Linked DNA regions of Homo sapiens. The protein of the gene in region 3 interacts with the protein of the main gene of each other region in a pairwise test. Each region holds a gene or a part of one and is shown on either strand. Other genes may lie near its edges.

Evidence for each region. The genes of interacting proteins can lie anywhere in the genome.
Region 1: the proteins of GRB7 (region 3) and LAX1 interact in binary tests that used the Homo sapiens proteins (3 or more experiments, as listed by UniProt).
Region 2: the proteins of GRB7 (region 3) and TRIM43 interact in binary tests that used the Homo sapiens proteins (3 or more experiments, as listed by UniProt).

Annotation. Positions count from the first base shown.
Region 1 is NC_000001.11:203,761,139-203,768,206, reverse strand, and holds the start of LAX1 (lymphocyte transmembrane adapter 1), read right to left. Parts: upstream 3,025-7,068; 5' UTR 2,865-3,024; coding exon of another isoform or gene 2,824-2,864; 5' UTR 2,642-2,823; coding exon 2,553-2,641; intron 1-2,552. UniProt on the Homo sapiens protein: Negatively regulates TCR (T-cell antigen receptor)-mediated signaling in T-cells and BCR (B-cell antigen receptor)-mediated signaling in B-cells.
Region 2 is NC_000002.12:95,587,133-95,595,024, reverse strand, and holds the start of TRIM43 (tripartite motif-containing protein 43), read right to left. Parts: upstream 3,025-7,892; 5' UTR 2,876-3,024; intron 1,006-2,875; 5' UTR 1,002-1,005; coding exon 591-1,001; intron 1-590.
Region 3 is NC_000017.11:39,740,932-39,747,807, reverse strand, and holds the end of GRB7 (growth factor receptor-bound protein 7), read right to left. Parts: intron 5,557-6,876; coding exon of another isoform or gene 5,507-5,556; coding exon 5,352-5,506; intron 5,243-5,351; coding exon 5,092-5,242; intron 4,911-5,091; coding exon 4,754-4,910; intron 4,629-4,753; coding exon 4,507-4,628; intron 4,416-4,506; coding exon 4,338-4,415; intron 3,739-4,337; coding exon 3,601-3,738; intron 3,256-3,600; coding exon 3,145-3,255; intron 2,923-3,144; coding exon 2,824-2,922; intron 2,707-2,823; coding exon of another isoform or gene 2,566-2,706; coding exon 2,485-2,565; intron 2,387-2,484; coding exon 2,270-2,386; intron 2,081-2,269; coding exon 2,020-2,080; intron 1,896-2,019; coding exon 1,808-1,895; intron 1,700-1,807; coding exon 1,606-1,699; intron 1,058-1,605; coding exon 911-1,057; 3' UTR 523-910; downstream 1-522. UniProt on the Homo sapiens protein: Adapter protein that interacts with the cytoplasmic domain of numerous receptor kinases and modulates down-stream signaling. Promotes activation of down-stream protein kinases, including STAT3, AKT1, MAPK1 and/or MAPK3. Promotes activation of HRAS.

The DNA of each region.
Region 1 (7,068 bases), on a different chromosome or scaffold from region 3:
CCCGAGTAGCTGGGACTACAGGTACGCACCACCACGCCTGGCTAATTTTTGTATTTTTAGTAGAGATGGGGTTTCATCATATTCGTCAGGCTGGTCTCGAACTCCTGACTTTGGGTGATCTGCCCACCTTGGCCTCCCAAAGTGCTGGGATTACAGGCGTGAGCCACCTCACCCAGCCCGATTGATTGATATTATACATTCATATGCTTATCTGTTTATCATTTTTTTATTTAAAAAAAAAAAATTTTGAGACAGGGTCTCCATGTGTTGCTCAGGCTGGTTTTGAACTCCTGGGCTCAATTGATCCTCCTGCCTTGGTCTACCAAAGGCTTGGATTATAGGCATGAGCCACCACGCTCAGCTCTGTTCATTATTTGACTCTCCCACTTGTCTATAATCTTCAGGAGGTTATGGACTTGTTTATCCTGTTCACCTAGTGCCTTAAACAGTGCTTGGTACTTAGTAGGGCCCTGATAAATATTTGTTAAATGAATGAATTAATAAACAAATGAATTAATATAGAAATAGTTTTAAGTGTAGTACAGCCATTATGGAAAACACTATGGAGGTTCTTCAAAAATTAAAAATAGAACTACCAAGGCGGGGCATGGTGGCTCATGTCTGTAATCCCAGCACTTTGGGAGGCGGAGGTGGGCGGATCACCTGAGGTAAGGAGTTCGAGACCAGCCTGACCAACATGGAGAAACCCCCAACTCTACTAAAAATACAAAATTAGCCAGGCATGGTGGCTCATGCCTGTAATCCCATTTACTGGGGAGGCTGAGGCAGGAGAATCGCTTGAACCTGGGAGGTGGAGGTTGCAGTGACCCTAGATTGCAACCTTGCACTCCAGCCTGGGCAACAAGAGTGAAACTTTGTCTCAAAAAAAAAAAAAAAAAAAAAGAAGTGGAGAGTAGAATGGTGGTTACCAGGGAGGGGTTGCAGAGATGTTGGTCAAAGGGTACAAAATATCAGTTAGAGAGAAAGAAAAATTCAAGGGATCTGTTGTATAACATGATGCCTATAGTTAATAAAAATGTGTTGATGGTCCAGACCCGGTGGCTCATGCCTGTAATCCCAGCACTTTGGGAGACAGAGGTGGGCGGATCACCTAAGGTAGGGAGTTCGAGACCAGCCTGACCAACATGAAGAAACCCCATCTCTACTAAAAATACAAAAAAAAGTTAGCCGCGGGTGGTGGCACATGCCTGCAATCCCAGCTACTCAGGAGGCTGAAGCAGGAGAATAGCTTGAACCTGGGAGGTGGAGGCTGCAGTGAGCCGAGATCACGCCACTGCACTCCAGCCTGGGCGACAGAGCGAGACTCTGTCTAAAAAAATAAAAATAAAAAAAACAAACAAAACAAAACAAAAAAAGTGTTGATGACTATAGTTAATAAAAATGTGTCATATTCTTGAAAATTGCTGAGAAATTTTAAGTATTCTCACCACAAAAGAAAATTGTGAAGTAATGTGTATCTTAATTAGTTTAATGTAGCTATTGTACAATGTATACATATTTCAAAACAACAGGCTATCATGATAAATATATATAATTTTGATTTGCCAATTAGAAATAAATAAAAATAAATGAAGAAATAGTTTTGGAGAGATGCTTCAGGCTTCTGATTCATTGCTCATTGATGCTCATATCTACCAGCAAGTGACATGTGTTTGCCATGATAATAACATTTATTTCCCCAAACGACTGCAATTTTATTTTATTTTTTGAGACAGAGTTTCGCTTTTGTTGCCCAGGCTGGAGTACAATGACATGACACTGCAACCTCTGTTTCCCGGGTTCAAGTGATTCTCCTGCCTCAGCCTCCTGAGTAGCTGGGACTACAGGAGCATGCTACCACTCCCGGCTAATTTTTGTATTTTTAGTAGAAACGGGGTTTCACCATGTTGGCCAGGCTGGTCTTGGCCAGGCTGGTTCAAGAGTGGGGGTGATCCGCCCCACTCGGCCTCCCAAAGTGCTGGGGTTACAGGTGTGAGCCACCGCGCCCAGTCAGCTGCCAATGTTTTTAAAGTTTCAACTGTGGATGGATTTTTAATTTTGTTTGTATGAGATTGAAAGTAGTAGCAGTAATTCATACCCATGATTAGTTCTGTAAGATTTTACGTCCTAAGGACGTATCTTTATTACATCTATCACTACATTTTTTATTCATGACAAGTTTTTGGATCTCAAAACACATCCTTGGAAAACTCAGCCTTTTGTTTCTGTCATGGTGACACCTAGGAAAGACTGATGATAGGGTTCAGGGCCTCCGAGAGGTGAGAAATCCAACCAGTCTAAGCAACTAGCTTTAAGGGCCAGTGTTATCACAGTTTTTCCTCTACCACAATATTTTCTTTCTTTCCTCAATACCTTCCTTTCCCCCTAGCACCCCTGAGCAAATGCCTCCAAGCCTAGAGTTTGGTGGTTTAGTAGACCGAGCCTGGGTGTTGAGAGGTGGCAGCACTGCTGTGTAAGAAGCTCCTAAGGGTGGACTAGGACCTTCTGCCTAAATCAGGGCAGGGTGGAGCTCACCACCCTGAGTCACTCACCTGTCCAGGCTGCGGGGAGTCACATGCAGAGTGCTGGACTCCAAGGTCCTCCCTCTGATTGTCGAAAGGGTTGGAGTGACACCATCCATTGTATCAGGAACCTTTGAGATGCTCTCTGGCTTCAGCTTCTAAGTTTCTCTTAATCATAATCAGTTAGCCAGCATGTCTACCACTTCTCCCCACCCCCGCAACAAACTCCCTATCTCGTGTCTACCTCTGAAACGTCAGGCCAAGTTGACCCAACATACAAAAGCAACAGGTTTGGTTCTACCTGGACGTGGCTAATGCCCACTGCAGGAAGTGCGATCTCATCCGGACATGGTGCTTCCAAGTGAGGTGGCTCAGGGAGAATCTGTGGCCTCTGCCTTCACGTTTCTGGTGGAAACGTGAGGGGCACAGAGGGGGAAACTGCCAAGAGGCTCAAGAGAGGCTCCGTGAGAAGCTCGTCTTCCTTCAACACCCAAAGCAGAGTGAAAAGAGCAAACCACTTTGCCAGAATGGAAACAGAGAGTCAGTCACCGGAAACGACACCACCAATGTGCTAATGAAGCACAGGGCACAGGAAACTCTGCTCAGCTCTTAATCTGCTAGAAGAAAACATATCTTCAACCCACCGTTCCTGGGTTTGCCAGGTGCTCTGTGGTCTGTGATGAGTGTGATTAAAAATGGGGCAGGGTAGTAGAGAACTTGTGATTCTTCACCCTGAGTTTCTGAGACACTTAGAGTTGTATAAGTCTTCAGATTTACAGTATTTTCTAAGCAAGTCTAAGGAGCACTGGAGGTTGCCTTTTAGAGTGAAATGCAGATCTCCGGGACCCTCTTCTGATTCAGTGGGTGGAGGCTGCAGAGGGGGCAGGCTTTGGCTATCGATGCTTTCCAGGTGAATTTGATGGAGCTTTCAGGTGATTTTGATGGAGCTCATCTGTGTTTCATGTTTTGGGAACCTCTGCTCTGGGTACTACCTTAAGAATAGAAGTTATGCTGGGTTAGCAGGACCCCTGCTCCCCCAAGGCAACCTTCCACAGCTCCTGGCTGCTGGTGATCTCCTGTTCTCAGGGCTCTTCTGAAGATCAGTCACAGTCTTACTTGTCACACACCTGTCTCAGAAGCTGAACAAGTTCATCCTTAAGAGCTACCCAAAGTGTTTGAAGATTGTTCAAAATTTATTGCTAACTCCCCTCCCTTCTTGAGCCTACTAATCTCCGGAAACACTCTTTGCATCTTGGGAGAGTCCAAAGAGAAGGGGCCACTAAGACTGTTGTAAGGATGTGAAGAACCTCTCTGATTGCACTTTCCACAAGGAAATGGATTCCCAGATGAATGGAAGGGCAGACCAGCAGTACCCTCCTAGAACCATGCCTCCCTCCCATCTCTTCCCAGTGGACATTGAGGTCCTCAGCTTTCCTGAGGTGGCAGCCCCTGGCCTGTCTGCATCCAGACTCTCACAGAGTCCCCAGGGGCTGCAGACTGGCCATGGCTGGCTTTCCAGGGAGCTTTATCATTCCAGGTCCTGGGCCCCTTCCCTCCCAGGAGCTTCACCTGGTAGGAAGCAGAAATGGCTCAGAGGCAGCTGGTGCTGGAGCTGGAACCTGGGTCTCTGCCCACTTCTCCTTTGGATCAGGTCTGAGTAGGAACTAGGACTACTCACAAGATCCATCATGCTGGTGGCAAGGACTGGGGTCCTGGGCCATTGGAACCAATAAGGGACTGTGAGAATCAGGACCTCGGAAGGCAGTACACGGAAAGGGCACATGGAACCAAACCTCAGAACCATGACTGCTAATTAAAAAAAAAAAATTTTTTTTTTTTTTAAAGAACTTTTCCATTGCATGTGATCATTTCAGGGCCTCACTTATCTTATCTACCCAATCTGCTGCAGTTAGACCAATCTTCCCTCTGGTTGTCCAATTCTCTCCTGCCCCCACATCTCAGGGAAATCACCACCTCAGAGGCAGCTGCCCAAGTTACCTGCCTCAGACTGCAGGTGAGTGCCAGGATTCCAGGCCTTGGCTGTGCCCCTCATCCTGCTCTCCTTTCCTTCCCCATGGGGCAAAATCCAATCAAACTGACAAACTAAAACAAAAAGTAGGTAGCTGAAATGATTCATCATAATAGCGGGGAAAAAACAACAGCAACAACAAAAAACACTCGTTCCTGGGAAATGGGGTGTATTTTGTTGTTGTTGTTGTTTTTTTGAGATAGAGTTTTGCTCTTGTTGCCCAGGCTGGAGTGCAATGGCATGATCTTGGCTCACCGAAACCTCCGCCTCCCGGGTTCAAGCAATTCTCCTGTCTCAGCCTCCCGAGTAGCTGGCATTACAGGCATGCACCGCCACACCCAGCTAATTTTGTATTTTTAGTAGAGACGGGGTTTCTCCATGTTGGTCAGGCTGGTCTCCAACTACTGACCTCAGGTGATCCGCCCGCCTTGGCCTCCCAAAGTGCTGGGATTACAGCATGAGCCACCGCACCTGGCCAAGGAGTGTATGTTTTAAATCCGATTGCTCTCGTGTTGTTGATGTTGTTTTTTTCTGAGACAGGGTTTCACTCCTGTTGCCCAGGCTGAAGTGCAGTGGCATGCTCTTGCTCACTACAACCTATGCCTCCCAGGCTCAAGCCATTCTCCTGCCTCAGTCTCCCAAGTAGCTGGGACTACAGGTACACGCCACCACACATGGCTAATTTTTGTATTTTTAGTAGAAATGAGGTTTCAGCATGTTAGCCAGGCTGGTCCAAACTCCTGGGCTCAAGTGATCTGCCCACCCTGGCCTCCCAAAATTCTGCGATTATAGGTGTGAGCCACTGCACCCAGCCTGCTCTAGTGTTTTAACCACTTTTCATGATTTTTTGGGGTCGGATGTTACATATGATTGTTACCAGACCCCAACACTTACCCAGAGTTAGCCTTTGGGTTGGGGGTTTCTGCACTATAGTCCCTTCAGTGGTTGCCAGAAAGGTGTTACAGGGAAGGGGTCCTGATGCAGACCCCAAGAGAGGGTTCTTGGATCTTGCCCAAGGAAGTATTCAGGGCGAGTCCATAGAGTAAAGTGAAAGCAACTTTATTAGGAAAGTAAAGGAATAAAAGAATGGCTGCTTCACGGACAGAGCAGCCTCAAGGGCTACTGGTTGCCCATTTTTATGGTTATTTCTTGATGATATGCTAAACACGGGCTGGATTATTCATGCCTCCCCTTTTTAGACCATATAGACTAACTTCCTGTTGTTCCATGGCATTTGTAAACGGTCATGGTGCTGATGGGAGTGTGGCAGTGAGGATGACCAGAGGACATTCTCATGGCCATGTTGGTTTTGGTGGGTGTTAGCCGGCTTCTTTACTACAGCCTGTTTTATCAGCAAGGTCTTTATGTCCTATATCTTGTGCCAACCTCCTATCTCATTCTGTGACTTAGAATGCCTTAACTGTCTGGGAATGCAGCCCAATAGGTCTCAGCCTCATTTTACCCAGCCCCTATTCGAGATGGAGTTGCTCTGGTTCATACGCCTCTGACAGGATTCTAAAGTATTAAGACTGTTTTTTGGCCAGGTGCAGTGGCTCACGCCTGTAATCCCGGCAAGTTGGAAGGCCGAGGTGGCTGAATCACTTGAGGTCAGAAGTTTGAGACCAGCCTGACTAACATGGAGAAACTCCATCTCTACTAAAAATACAAAAAATTAGCCAGGCGTGGTTGTGCCTGACTGTAATCCCAGCTATTCAGGAGGCTGAAGCAGAATTGCTTGAACCCGGGAGGCAGAGGTTGCAGTGAGCCGAGGTCGCACCATTGCACTCTAGCCTGAGCAACGAGCAAAACTCCCCTCAAAAACAAACAAACAAACAAACAAACATTTATTTATTTATTTATTTTTGAGAAGGTGTCTCGCTCTTTCGCCCAGGCTGGAGTGCAGTGGCATGATCTCAGCTCACTGTAACCTCTGCCTCCTGGGTTCAAGCGATTCTTCTGCCTCAGCCTCCCGAGTAGCTGGGACTACAGGTGTGCGCCACCATGCTCGGCTAATTTTTGTATTTTTTTTTTTTTTTAGAAAAGACGGGGTTTTACCATATTGGCCAGGCTGGTCTCCAACTCCTGACCTTGTGATCCACCTGCTTTGGCCTCCCAAAGTGTTGGGATTACAGGTGTGAGCTACCAGGTCCAGCCTATTTATTTATTTTTTGAGATGGAGTCTTGCTCGTCGCTCAGGCTTGAGTGCAATGGCATGATCTCGGCTCACTGCAACCTCTGCCTCCCGGGTTCAAGTGATTATCCTGCCTCAGCCTCCTGAGTAGCTAGGATTACAAGCGCTCGCCACCACGCCCAGCTAATTTATGTGTTTTTAGTAGAGATGGGGTTTTGCCATGTTGGCCAGGCTGGTCTCGAACCCCTGACCTTGTGATCTGCCTGCCTCAGCCTCCCAACTTGCTGGGATTACAGGCATGAGCCACCACACCTGGCCTAGACTGTTATTTTTGTGTTTTTTTGTTTTTTTTTTTTTTGAGACGGAGTCTTGCTCTGTCACTCAGG
Region 2 (7,892 bases), on a different chromosome or scaffold from region 3:
AACAGAAAGTCAAATGCCAAAGATTCCACAATCTGAGTGGTATACACAGGCAAGGGATAATATATAAATACATTAGTGAGAGGAGAAAAAAACAAAATTTTTCATTGCTCATCCTTAATTGATATTTTTCAGTTTGAGGTTTCAGAATGTAGAACAGCTTAGGGAACTGAAGAGTGAAGATTTCCTGTAACCCAGCTAAATTAGTTCAGGGAAACATCCTGCTTCAGAACCCACTATGCTAGCCCCTGATTTTGTAGTGTGCTACTCCCATACTCATTTGTCCAGTAATATTAAATATATTTCCAAAATACCTTTCTTTGCACTGGTAGTTTTGGTAGCTTTTCAATGTCATTAGCATTGAACTGTAGAGTCAATAATAATGACATTTACTTAATCAGTCTCTTTTTGGGTGCAAGCTCCATGAAGGAAGGTAGAGTTGCACATTTTATTCAAAATGTCATCATTGGTACCTAGAACAGCACCTGGCACTCAGTAAAGAATGGAGTAATCACCATGATTCTCATCATCCTTCTAATATCTTTAACTCTGCCACCCTCCAGCTTTCAGGTGATCACAGAGCTATCTCTTACCCGGTGTTCCTCAGCTGCCTCTTCGATGGGATGGTGTTTGTGAGCCCCGTGCTCCTGAGAGTTGGAGCACAGCAAGCAGAGGAGACTCTTGTCCATGTCACAGAACATCTTCTTTGTTTGCCTATGGGTCCCACATATTTGTTTCTCAGAGCTCAGGAATTGCCAGAGACTGGCTTTTCTGGCAATGGTCACTAAATTCTTCAGAAGAATATTGGTTTTGAAGTCCATTTTCGGTGATGGTTCCCTGCATGCAGGGCAGTTTGCAGGACTTTGGGCTTCCTCCCACGAAAGGCAGAGACAGGGCCTACAGAAGCTGTGCCCACAGCAGATGGTGACAGGGTCTACCAGGTAGTTCAAACAGATGACGCAGGTGAGTTCCTTCTGGAAGGCATGTGAGAAGTCTGAGTCCATTTTCCTAAGGAAAGAAAACCACAGGAATTTAATCTTCTACCCTGGAGAGACAAAGATCCAAGCAAAGTTTGAATCAGATCGTGATCGAATAATATCCTTTCTTTCTAAAGAAGTATAGGCTTTAATCTGCAATGACAGAAATAGGAAAAACAGAAAACTAAGGCACAAAGAGACATCAACCTCTATAAAAAGTGACTGTTCTCCAATCAACACATGACCAGCTTTCCAAACTCTACTTTCTTGCATGGAAGAATGTCGGATTTTTTGAGGTGTTAGTATCCACCAAATTGCTTGGGCTTCAAGGGTTTCATCAACCTGTAAACTCAAGGTTTGAGTCTTGAATGGTCTGAAAATCAGTAACACTCTTAATTGCCAGTGATTGGTTTAAAGAAGGAAAGCTAACTAAGCTCTTCTACTCTCATTATTTTATTTAACTATAACAACCATCCATAATGACTTTTCCAGAAGGACATTGCTTGAAAATGTTAGAGCAGAACTCATACTTTGACCCAAATCAGAAAAAGCTAGCCTTTACTCTCCAAGGAAAAACAGTCAAATCAAGGTAAGGCACCTCTCCAAGGTAAAGCTAAGAATCATTGTTTTTCTAGGCTACTATGTTAATTTAATCAACAAAAACTTTCTGGCATGTTTACTGTTCCTGGACAGTCTGTTAATTTGGGGATATACTAGTTAATATTACAACATCCTTAAAAGACAATTAATTCAATTTACAAAAAGATAATGATAATTGAAGCATTATCATTACTCTTTCACACAGTCAGGAAAAGAGTAAGTATCATGCAATAACAGGCACTAGAGGCCGGGCACGGTGGCTCACGCCTGTAATCCGAGCACTTTGGGAGGCCGAGGTGGCTGAGGCAGGCAGATCACGATGTCACGAGCTCAAGACCATCCTGGCTAACATGGTGAATCCCTAACTCTACTAAAAAATACAAAAAATTAGCCGGGAGTGGTGGAGGACGCCTGTAGTCCCAGCTACTCTGGAGGCGGAGGCTGGAGAATGGCGTGAACCCGGCAGGCGGAGCTTGCAGTGAGCCGAGATAGTGCCACAGCACTCCAGTCTGGGTAACAGAGCAAGACTCTGTCTCCCCTCTAAAAAAAAAAAACAAAAACTAGGCACTAGACAGTAAGTCAGCGTTTTAAATGTATGTTTTGCTAAAATACAAATAAAAATAAAAACCAAGCCAGGGAAGGTGACTCAAGCCTGTAATCCCAGCATTTTGGGAGGCCGTCAGGCAGGTTTTTTGAGCTCAGGAACTCTAGACTGGTGACACGGCAAAGTGTCTAGATCATCCTGTCTCTAAAAATACTTATATAAATTTAAAAAAAAAAGGCCGGGCGCGGTGGCTCAGGCCTGTAATCCCAACACTTTCAGAGGCGGAGGTGAACGGATCACAAGATCAAGAGATGGAGACCATCCTGGCCAACATAGTGAAATCCCGTCTCTACTAAAAAAAAATACAAAAATTAGCTGGGCGTGGTGGCAGGCGGCTATATTTCCAGCTACTCTGGAGGCCGAGGCTGAAGAATCGTTTGAACCTGGAAGGCGGAGGTTGCAGTGAGCCAAGAGCGCCGCTGCACTCCAGCCTGGCAATAGAGCGTGATTCCATCTCAAAATAAATAAATAAACAAATAAATAAATAGCTGAACATGGTGGCCCATGTTTAATCCATAAACCTATGGATTATGTTTAAAATAATTTTAAAAAAGAAATGGAGCCGTTTTTAAAACTCAGAAAATGAGATCATTTCATCTAAAAATAATCTAAGTTTGCAGATAAATTAAAGTCCCCAAATTTTGTTTTGGTTTGTAGCTCCTAATAGTAGCTCCTACTCTGGAAATTGTGTACTTACCTCAGAAATATATCTATGTTCTCACCAAAGCTTGCCGTCGAATCAGATGAATTCAGCTCAGGGATGAGAGTCTCACAGTGCAGTGCTGGTAGCTTTCGGAAGTCCCCAAAGCCAGTTGCAAAGCTACTCTGTGGGCTCTGGAGAAGAATGAGCTTGGCTCCTGAAGTGTCGGTTTATAAATCTCTGAAGACCACACCCCTTTCTTCCAATTGATTGCATTTCACAGGGCGTAGGTGGGTGTTAACATAGATGATTAAGTTTCTTCAGAACAGAAGTTTTATCTTTATTTATTTATTTTTTTTGAAAGGAGTCTGGCTCTGTCGCTGGCTAGTTTTTTTCTTGCATTTTTAGTAGAGAGGGGGTTTGATATAATTGATATAATAGGAATTGCAAATAGAGAAGCCCACACAAGCTAACCAAATTAATTCTAGTTTATTGGATAAATGGTATGATATGTATTCTAGTTCAAATTTGAAGGTTGGTATAAACCTTTTCAGACACTGGAGATGAGACATTTCACCAAGATTGGGTGTAAGGAAGAGGAAAGAAATAGAATAGTATATAAAATAGTATATAGAGTAAAAATACAGTAAAAGGAAAAATCAATCTGCATAATATGGTGTATGGCTAAATGTTTTTTAATATTTAGGCGAATCAGACATGGAAAAATCCTAAAAGGGAGATTAATAGAGGAGATAGTTGACTCAGTAAGAACTGTGAAGAAGCATCTCAGGAAGAGAAACTAGAAGTCTTTATATAGGTTTTGATTTAAAGAGGGAGAGAGAATAGGAACATTGAAAAAGAAGGACAGAAAGAAATAACAAATATTCAAGACTCCTTGCAAGAGTGAGGCAGAAAGTTTATAGATTGCTTGATTACACCCAGCATATAATTATTTGAAGTTTTCTGTTGAGAGTGAGAGTATGTAATCCTTTTAACCAAATGTCTCCGCAGAACTATGTGTCATTAAGTAAGGTGATAATCAATATTCAATATCAAAAGATGCATCTATTTCTCGATGAGGAGAAGCAACTTCATCTGCAGGCACTGGACAGCGAAGCCAAATAGCTTTTCCAACAACTACAAGACAGTCAAGTGAGAATGACCCAACATTTAGAAAGGATGAAAGACATGTACAGAGAGCTGTGGGAGACGTGCCTCATGCCTGACGTGGAGCTGCTCCAGGTGAGGAGGGAGGGTCCATCCCCAAAGAAAGGAAGACTTTGCTGGACAATGCTGCCAGGACATGCGAATGTCACCTGCATATGTCACTGCTCTCAGCTTAGTGACACATGCTGTCTGACTCCCACATTACATTTGTCCAGTTTTTCAGAAAAAAGCTACAAAAGAAGCTTATTAGAGGGGAATATTCCCTGTGGTCAGTGTTTGATAAAGGGGAATATAAAATTACATCCACTCAAAGATTCCAAAAAAGCTTGCTTGTTCATGGTTAGGATAAGAATTACATTTCACCTATGTTATTTCTATTTGGAAAAGTTCCTCCCTCTTAGAAGCAGGAGATACATATATGATATATATGGTACATATATGTATGTATACACACATATACATATATATATACCCCCCACACACACACATATCTATGGTGTTGAATAAATAATATCACCTAAGCCAGGGGTGTGCAATCTTTTGGCTTCCCTGGGCCTCATTAGAAATAGAATTGTCTTGGGCCACACATGAAATACACTAAGATTAACTATAGCTGATGAGCTTTAATAAAATGACAAACAAAAATCTCTTCATGTTTCAAGAAAGGTTAGGAATTTGTGTTGGGCCACATTCAAAGCCGTCCTTGGCCGCACGGACCGTGGGTTGGGCAAGCTTGTTGTAAGGTATGAACTTCAAATACTACAAAATTTTTTTAGGCATATTATTGGTTCTTTCCTGGAGCAGCTCCATATCTAGTTTATGGCACATTTTTATCAGCTCCTTATAGATTTTTCTTAGGTGTTTTTTTTTTCTGAACCATTTTGTCTTTTTGCTTTTCTTAAGTTGCTGTAAAATCTTTCTGTCATCATGGTTGTAAGTTTCTCTAAGTGTTGTTTTACTTCTCATGGGGAACTGAATGCAGCTTCCTCTACTCAGCTGTAGTCATCTCTGCCCATAGCTACACATAGCACTGCAGGGACCTAGATTTCCTAGATGACATATTTACTCTGAATTCATCCTCCTCCACTTATACCTCTTCTATTCACTTTGACTCATTTCCTTTTCTTTATCTCTTTCATCTTTTCTGTATAATAAAGATCAGGGTCTCACTATGTTGATGGCCAGGCTGGTTTGAAACTCCTGGTCTCAAGTGGTCTTCCCAAAGTATTGGGATTACAGACATGAACCACTGAGCCTAGCCTGACTCATGTATTCTACCAATAAGCTAAGTACATAAACTCGTGTCTTCCCACTTGACAGAACCATGAAATAGATCATTCCTGTCTTCCTTTCATTTATTTGTATTGTTTCTTAATAATACTGAAAGCCAAATTCATTCGTTCCTCAAACCACTTTCATTCATTATATGACTTCCTAAAACACCTGAAGAAAGGTTATTATTGATCGTTTCTTCAATATATATCCATTGATATCTGAAAGCCTACATGAGAGCCATTGGAATTTATGGTTGATTCACAAATAATTTTTTGCAGTGTTATGATCTCTGTGTTTTTAAATTAGTTTTTAGTACCAGGTCTTCCTACTCCATAGCTTGACCACTCTCCCTGAGCATTAATCAATGCTGCATTGTACCCTCAGGATTGGAAGCCATGAGAAAAATCTTCCTCAAATCTACCAAGATGATTTCCATTCAAGTGATAAGTGGATACATTTCTAGCATGTCTGTCTGAGGCTAACTCTGAGGGAAAAGGCCTAATACTTGCAATCCACTGGTTGGTTTTCCTGCTTTCCTCATTTAAATTTCTTTGGTTTTCTTGAATTTTTGCCCACAAACATCTCATTTGCTTCATAATCTTCTCCTGTAAAAGAACTATGAATGTGAACATCAGAGAAGCAAATCATTTTAGGTTTCAGACCCCCAGTGATAAAGAAATCAAGGGATGAGATATGAAAGAGATTTGGGAAGATCTCGGACTGTAGAACCACAACGTGTAACGCAGCAAGTTTAATAGGAAAATCATAGGCAGGGCTAATTTACAGATAATGTGGCACCTTGCATCAGAATTGGAATCTACTGACACCGTGCCCTGCTAATTCTAACGTGTTTTATTCTATTATTTCCAGTGTTGGTAAATAGGTTTCTTATAGAAAAGACTTTTTAACTTGTAGTTTGGATAGCCAGAAACTCTTCTGATATTGAGCTCTTTACAGTGCCTTGAACACTGCATCAAGTAGTCAAATTATTACAATGATTATTAACTTCATCACTCCCTCAGTGAAATGTAAGCTCCAGGAAGGAAAGCACACTCAGATTATATTTATTATTTTATCATTGATACCTAGGCACTACACGACATCCAGTACAGAGCAGATTAATCATCATGCTCTTCATCTTCCCCTAATCTCTTTACCTGTGCCATCCTCCAGCTTTCAAAGTGCTCTCAGAGCCATCACTTACCCAGTGTTCCTTAGCTGCCCCTCACAGTGTGTGTGAACCCCATGCTCCTGAGAGTTCCAGCACAGCAAATGAATCAGGCTCTTTTTCCACCTCTCCAAATATCTTCTTTGTCTCCCTGTGGATCCCACGCATTTGTTCATTAGGGCTCAGGAATTGCCAGAGACTGGCTTTTCTGGCAACGGACACTAGATTCTTCAGAAGAATATTGGTTTTGAAGTCCTCCTGCTGTGACAGTTCCCAGCATGTGGGCAGCAGGTAGGAATTTTGGTTTCTTCCTAGGAAAGGCAGAGACAGGGCCTACAGAAGCTGGGGCTGCAGCCTGTGGCAATGGGGTCTACACATTAGTTCAGACAGAAGAGGCAGATGGATTCTTTCTTTCTGGAAGGCTTGTGTGATGTCTGAGACCAATTTCCTGAAGGAAGGAAATTAGGAAAGGTATGATTCAAACTTCTTCATCTTATGCCCTGAGAAACAAAGACCAAAGCAAAATTTGACTCAGGTTGTGACTCAATGATACACTTCTGTCTAGAGTAGAATAGGCTTTATTTTGCATAAGACAAAAATAGAACCTGAGGCACAAAGAGAGCTCTCAGATCTGTAGGTAAAATTGTCAGATGCATGCATAACTCACAGGGCACTACATCCTACCCTTTTCTTTTGTATAGAAAAATGAACCTCAGAGAGGCCAGAAATGGTGGCTCACACCTATAATCCCAGCACTTTGGGATGCCAAGGCTGGTAGATCAGGTTGGAGACCAGCCCGGCCAATATGGGGAAACCCCATCTCTACTAAAAATACAAAAACCAGCCATGAGTAGTGGCACACGCCTGTAATCCCAGTCACTCAGGGGACTGGGCAGAAGAATCGCTTGAACCCTGAGGTTGCAGTCAACTGAGATTGAGCCACTGCTCTTCAGCCTGGGCAATAAAACAATACCTGTCACAAAAAGAAAGAAAAAGAAGGAAGGAAGGAAGGAGAAAAGAAAAGAAAGAAAAGGAGAAAAGAAACCTCCATTTTGTTGAGTTTTGACTTTACTCCAAAAAGCTTGAGGTTTAAGAGTATGAAATTGGGACCAATTTACACCATAGATGATGGGTCCTGAATATTCTGAAAACCATTCTTAATGCTCATTGTGATTGGTTTAGGAAAGATCGATTTAGTACAAAAGAAAAAAGTGATTGGTTTAGGAAACTGTATTTCACTGAGATTTTACTCTCATTATTTCATTTTGATGTCATAATTTTCTCCTTTAAAGTATTTCGAAAATCCTCAATCACAAGCCACCACTGCAAAATAATTTCTAAATAAATAAGCAATATTTATTTACTGAACATTTGGTGAAATTTCATCAGATCAGATTTCACCCAAAATTTGATCAGATTTCACCCAAAAATGCTAAAGAGGCATTTAGTATATTCTAAAACACA
Region 3 (6,876 bases):
TAGCAATGACTGGGCGCCTACTATGTGTCAAGCTGCATGGTGGGCACTGGAGACTCTCAGATAACCACTCCTGCCCTTGAGGAACATCCAGGCAGGCTGAGACATGGCCTCGATCCATTTGACACTTCCACCAAGGCCTCCACAGGTGCCCACCTCTCCAGGTCTCCCCTCTTTTTTTTTCCAGACAGGGTCTCACTCTGTCACTCAGGCTGAGTGCAGCGGCACAATCTCAGTTCACTGCAACCTTGACATCCCAGGCTCAAGGAACAAGGGATCCTCCCACCTCAGCCTCCTGAGAAGCTGGGACTACAGGTGCACACCACCATGCCCGGCTCATTTTTTTATTTTTTGTAGGGACAGGGTCTTGCCATGTTGCCCAGGCTGGTCTCAAACTCCTGGACTCAAGCAATTCTCCTACCTTGGCCTCCCAAAGTGCTGGGATTACAGGCATGAGCCACCACGTCCAGCTCTGGTTCCCTTCTTGATTCAGCCAGCCAGGCCTTGCCAGACAGAACTCATAGGTGTATCAAAAAATAATCTTTATTGTCACTAGTATAAAACAGAGCAGATCAACTGGCCTCTCGGTCTGTACAAAGTGTGGGGCGTGAAACCGCCTGGGCTGCCCCCACTTCTCCCATAATTCCCTGCCCTAGAGCAGCACCTCCAGAGCTAGGAGAAGGAGAGGGGGCCACCCAAGGCCTTCCCTTGAGGAGAGGGGTCAGGAGTGGACTGGAGTGGGGGCTGTTTTCTATCTGAGGGAGGCAAAGAAGCAGAGGAGAAAACTGGAGTGGCGGAACCCTCCCGCTCCTCATCCCGTCCCCTGTGGCCGCGCCCCAGAGTCCACTGGATGGGTGGAGGGGCGGCGGGCAGCCTGAAGGCGGGCTGAGGCATGAGCCAGTCCACGGCCTGGTCAGAGGGCCACCCGCGTGCAGCAATGGCGCAGCAAGCACGGCAGGATGCCGCGGTTCAGCTGGTGGAACTCCACGAGCTGCAGCAGGTCAGTGAAGCGGGTCTGGCCATCATCCATGCTGAAGTACAGGCGGCCCTCCTCCTCGCTCTGGGGTACAGTAAAGGGGGTGGAAGTTCAGGGAGGGGCCCGAGGCTTGGGAAGCTCCCTCCTGGGCCAGGGCCCCACCATTTCCTTTTATTCTTTTCTTTTTTCTTTTTCTTTTTCTTTCTTTTTTTTTTTTTGAGACAGTTTTCTCACTGTGTCATCCAGGCTGGAGTGTGGTGGTGCCACCATGGCTCACTGCAGCCTTGACCCTCTGGGCTCAAGCAATGCTCCCACCTCAGCCTCCTGAGTAGCTGGACTACAGGTGTGCACCACCATGCCTGGCTCATTTTTAAATTATTTGTAGAGATGGGGTCTCCCTGTGTTGCCCAGGCTGGTCTCGAACTCCTGGGCTCAAGCCATTCTCCCACCTTGGCCGTCCTAAGTGCTGGGATTACAGGTGTGAGCCACCGCACTCAGCCTCCCACTTCTTGTGCAGGGAAAAGGGAGACGCACTGGGGGCCAGGGAGCCTCTGGAGGGGCCTGGTGAGGAGGACAGGTTGCTGGGAGTCCTGTGTCTCATTGCAGGACTCCGGGGACGCAGGGAAGCTCACCGGCAGGATGAGATAATGCTTCACTTTCTGCAGGTGGCACAAAGAGAGGACAAAGCCCTGGGGGTTCCGCTGACTCTCCCGGACCAGGAACAGGCTGCCAGAAGACAGGAGATGGGGCAGCATTACTACCCAAGGACCATGGCTGCCACCTGGACCCCAGTCTCTCTTATCCCTGGGTCTGTTGCCCGGCCCTGCCCCTTACCCGTCTACCAAGCCCTGCTGTCCAATAAGCCGCTGGCTCTCCTCACGGGAAATGCGCCCGTGGAACCAGAGTTGGGTGCGGTGGATGGCTGTGGTGGGGAAGGACATGGGCGGTCACTTTGGGGAGGGGACCCCTATACCATCTACTCCCCACTGGGAATACAAAGAGAAGTTGAGGCAGCCCCCGCCCCAGGACTCGGGGCCGTCACCCACCTGCACTGAGGCTCGTGCCGGAGGCTGGCATGGGCAGGCTGAGGCGGTGGTTTGTCTTCTTCTGTGGAGCAGTGGGAGATACGGGAGAGTCGGGGCGTGCTTGGGGGCATTACCCAGCACCTCAGGAAGGTAGAGCACTTCTTCCCAGCCAGGGGCCTCCCCCCGCCCTCTCTTCCTCCCTCCTATTTCAGGGATCCCACCCAGAGAGTGGGTCCCCAGCACAAACACACACACACACAGCAGGCCTCACCCTCCAGGCCTGGGCCTCCTCCAGGGCCACACTCAGAGCCTCCCGGGGGTTCTCAATGACACGCCCAGCATGGCCAGAGAAGTCCATGGCCACCAGGGTATTATCTGAGGCACTTCTCTGGAGATGGAAGGAGAGGAGAGAGGTCAGAACAGGGCCCAGGTACCCGTAAGACAGGGCCTGCATACCCACCCTCCCATCCCCTTGGGCACACTCACCAAGGGTGGGGAGCCCAAACAAGATGGATGCAGATGGCGAGACTGTGCCTGCTGGTAATTCTTGTACAGCTGCACCCCGTACTGGGGGTGGGGAGAGAAAGAGAGCTTGAGGTCGAGAGGTCCTGGGGGCGTGGCTGTGACGCCCCCCTCAGACCAGGACTTGCCCAGACCAGGGCTGTGTTTCTGCCTTCGATGGGCACTTCCTATAACTTCAGGCTTGGACTGGGGGTTATCAGAGAGCAAGGCTGTGATGCCCTCCTCATTCCTGAGACTTCCTGAGGGCAGAGCTGGGGATCCCTCTGGCCAGGCCAGCCCCCCATGCCACTCCCAGGGTCTCACCTTGAAGAGGCGGAAGGCAGCCAGCCAGCAGGTGCGGCTCTGCTCATCTTCACTGCAGAAGATCCGAAGCCCCTTGTGGCCATTTCGAAGCTTGTTGGGCTGCAGAGAGAGGAAATTGACTGGTCCCATATCTGCCTTTAGGACCACATGTCTGCCCCTGCTCCACATAGCAGAGCTGAATCCAGGAGTTTCCAGCAGGCCAGGGTGCAGGGAGAGGAGTCTAGGTGTCTGAATTGGGGCTCAGAAGCCCCGGGCAGGATCCAGGGGCCTGAGCAGTTCCTGCTTCCCCAGGCCAGGGGCCAGGCCTGGCCAGGTCTTCACCTTGACACAGAAACCGAAGTCAGTGGGCATCCCGTAGAGCTTGCGGCCCTGCGTCACCACGTACACGTTGGACTCGTTCACATCTGCCACGTACTGCAGGTGCCTCGGATCCTAAGCAGCATGAGTGAGCAGGACTTGGTACAGGTAGATCCCGCCCACTATTACCTCCCCCCACAAGCCAGGTGGGGAGATTTCAGGACCAGAGAGGGGCAGGGGAATACCCAGGGTCACACAGCAAATAGAAGTAGAGCCAGGACTTAAACTAAGATCATCTTTTCTCCTGCTACCTCCCTGGGCAGGTGAGCTAGGCAAGGATGTAGGGAGAGATGGTAAACTGGAGGTGGCTGGCCTGGGGGGCCCAGGGGGAGAAGGGCTCAGAGGTTCCAGCAGAGAAGGGGCAACTTCTAAAAGGACCAGGGACTGGAGGGGCTGGGGCTGGTACCCTCAAGACCTTACCTTAGAGGTGCCCTTGGTGGAGTAATAGAGGCCAGATCGGCGCAAGAAGCAGAAAAAGCGTTTCCAAAGCTTCCGTCCTGAACCCCGCAGCTGCAGAAAGCCCTGGATCTCAGGAAAGCTGCCAGCATTCAGGAAGTTCTGAGCCAGAGGAGAGCAGAGGAGAGTGACAGGTCTGACCTCCTCCCTTCCCCTCTACCACCAGGATGTTTCTCTTTTTCTTTTTCTTTTTGAGACAGGGTCTCATGCTAGTGCGGTGGCACGATCACAGCTCACTGCAACCTCGACCTCCCGAGCTCAAGTGATCCTCCCACCTCAGCCTCCCAAGCACCTGGGACTACAGGCTCATGCCACCATTCCTGGCCTTTTTTTTTTTTTTTTTTTTTTTTTTGGAGAGACGAGGTCTCATTATGTTGCCCAGGCTGGTCTCAAACTCTCAAACTTCTAGGCTTAAGTAATCCTCCCGCCTCAGCCTCCCAAAGTGCTGGGATTATAGGCATGAGCCACCGTGCCCAGCCCACCCTCAGGTTTTTACAAGGAAATGCTCCACATGCATTTCTCGCCCCCATTTAATAGAAGAAACTGATGCTCAGGCAGGGAAAGTGACTGTCCCCAGTCACACAGGACTGTGATTTGGCTCTTTCTACAACATAGAGGGGAGGCACAGGACTTAAGGGTGGAGAAGCACTGGCCAATGCTGGGGAGTCGTGAATCTGCAGTGAAATGGGGGGTCCCCCCACCTGGATGAGGTCTTCATGGGATATACCAGTGTGTGCATCGAGACAGCTGGAGACCATTTTTTCTGGGAACAGGGAGTGCTGTGGGTAGACAAGTGTCAGGGATCAGGGCTCCAGCATCCAGGTTGAGGATCAGGGCATCCCAGCGCCCAGACAGCCCTCATGCACTCACTGGGGAGCTCTTGAACAGTTCGTACTTGGCGAAGTTTTTCCGGAAGACGAAGCGGCTATCTCCGCCCACGGGCCAGGCAGCCTGCACTTCCACCACGGACTCGTGGTCCTCCAAACCCCGCTCTGGGGACAAGGGCAAAAAGCAGGGGTTATTGGAGATCAACCAGATCTCCTGGATGAGCCACATGCCTAGCCCAAGATGCAAGGCATCATCTCCCAGCCCGGATAGTTCCATGCACCTGACTTACCCAGTGCTAGGTGGGGGTGGCACTCCACCAGCCCCCAGGTCTCGTCGCTCAAGGCGTGAGCTCGCTGCACCAGCATTTCACACACGTGGCGAGCTGTGGCACCTGCTGCCACCTCCACAGACCTGCAGGCCCCATCCTCACTGTACACCTTTACTACCTGCGCCCCAGGAATTGCACACGACTTGAGGGGAGGCAAAGGGTGATTCATTCCCTTTCCGCACCTGCTAGACCCTCAGGGACTCCTAACCAAGATCCCCTGCCTCCATGGAAGCGGCTGTGTATCTCCCACAGACCCAGAACCCGTGCATCCCTCCCTTCCCTTCTGAGGGACAACTCACATGGGGGCGGCTGGCATCGCGGGGGAGCAGCCCCCTTGCACTGGAGGGGCCCCCGAGAATTGGGCTCTGTGAGGGAGGACTGCAGAGCTCAGGGAAGGGGTTGGGGATAGAGGGGAGGGAGGTGGCACGCCTCTCCTCCTCTCGAAGTTTCCTGTGGCAAGAAGAAAAAGGGAGAGAGGTGTGGGGAAGGGAGCAGTGGCCTGCAAGCCTCTGTGTATTATCCAGCACTGACCTCCCCCAAGCCCCACGCCCCATCGTACCTGCCGGTGGTTGGGATGAGGAGAGGCTGGGACCTCTTTACCTCCTCAGGCAGAGGGGTATCAGGGGGCCGGGGAGTCCCAGGAGGGGTCCCAGGGGCTGGGCAAAGGTCTTCCGGAGAGCTGCTAAGATGAGGTGGAGACAGATCCAGCTCCATGGCGTCTGAGCAAGAGAGGGGCTTAACGGAACCAGTTGTGTGCCCTTGTCCTGGGGAGAGGGGATGAGAGAATTCAGACCTCCTGACCTCACACGGCGGTTAGGGTGCCCCTCAGAGTTTACCTAGCACCTCACTGCTCTAACTGGAGTTTCCCTGAAGCCCTTGGGGAAGGACAGAATGAGCCTCATTTTACAAAAGGGGACACCGAGTCTCTGAGAAGAAAGCATTCTTGCCCTCAGTCACAGGTGAGTCGGGAGTAGAACCTGTGTTTAGACTCCAAGTCCAGTGCTCTTTCTGTTTTTTTTCTCCTTTTTTTTTTTTTTTTTTGCAGCGGCGTCATCTCCACTCACTGCAACCTCCACCTCCTGGGTTCAAGTAATTCTCGTGCCTTAACCTCCCGAGTAACTGGGATTACAGGTGCCCACCACCACGCCCGTCTAATTTTTGTATTTTTAGTAGAGACAGGGTTTCACCATGTTGGCCAGGCTGGTCTTGAACTCCTGATCCGCCCGCCTTGGCCTCCCAAAGTGCTGGGATTACAGGCGTAAGCCACCACGCCCGGCTCCAGTGCTCTTTCTTTAGCACAAAGTTGCTCACAGGAAGAGCTGAGGGTCCACCCACCACAAGCCTGGTGGTCACAACAGATTTCACAACCCACAGACTCTCAGGCTCAGCCCTCAGGGTCAGGGCAAAGGCCCACTCCTTTGCCTCCACGTGTGGGGCACTCACTGCGCTGGGCTGTGCCCCGGGTTTTTCCAGCACTTTGTTGCCAGACCCAGTTGCCAGAGCCTGTTCATACTTGGCGAGGTTTGGCCTGCCCAAGTGATGAGTGATGCAGAGGGGAGAAGGAGGTGGGGAAGGATGGGAGTCAGAAAGGCAGGAGAGCGGGCTCCGCTGCAGTGCAAGGGGGAGAGCAGGGCCTGGGGTAGGGGTCCTGGCCCCAGCAGCCCCCAAACCTTGCGTACCCTCCCCAGGCCATCCTCCTGCCCAACTCTTTCCTGAAGCCCCAGTGCTAGAGCCACCTCCTCTGAGAAGCCTTCCTGGCCTTCCACATTCAGACTGAATGACTCTCTCTCAGCACTGTGCGGGGGCCGCATCATCCATTACTGTGCACCTGTCCTATCCACCCATTTGTCTGAGGGCACCTGGTACCCCCAGGCAAGGCCAATCTCACCCATGTCTTATCACTTATAGGGGCTGCACAGACACTCAAGACAAGTAAAGACAGGACAGCAGGCAAAGACGAGCACTAGAGGTGGAGGTGGGGCTGGCACCTTCTCCGCAGGAACCCAGCAGACCCCTTTGGCCGGGCTGAGACCTGGGAGAACCTGCAATCCCAGCCCCCAGCCTGTTCTCCAAACACTGGGCCA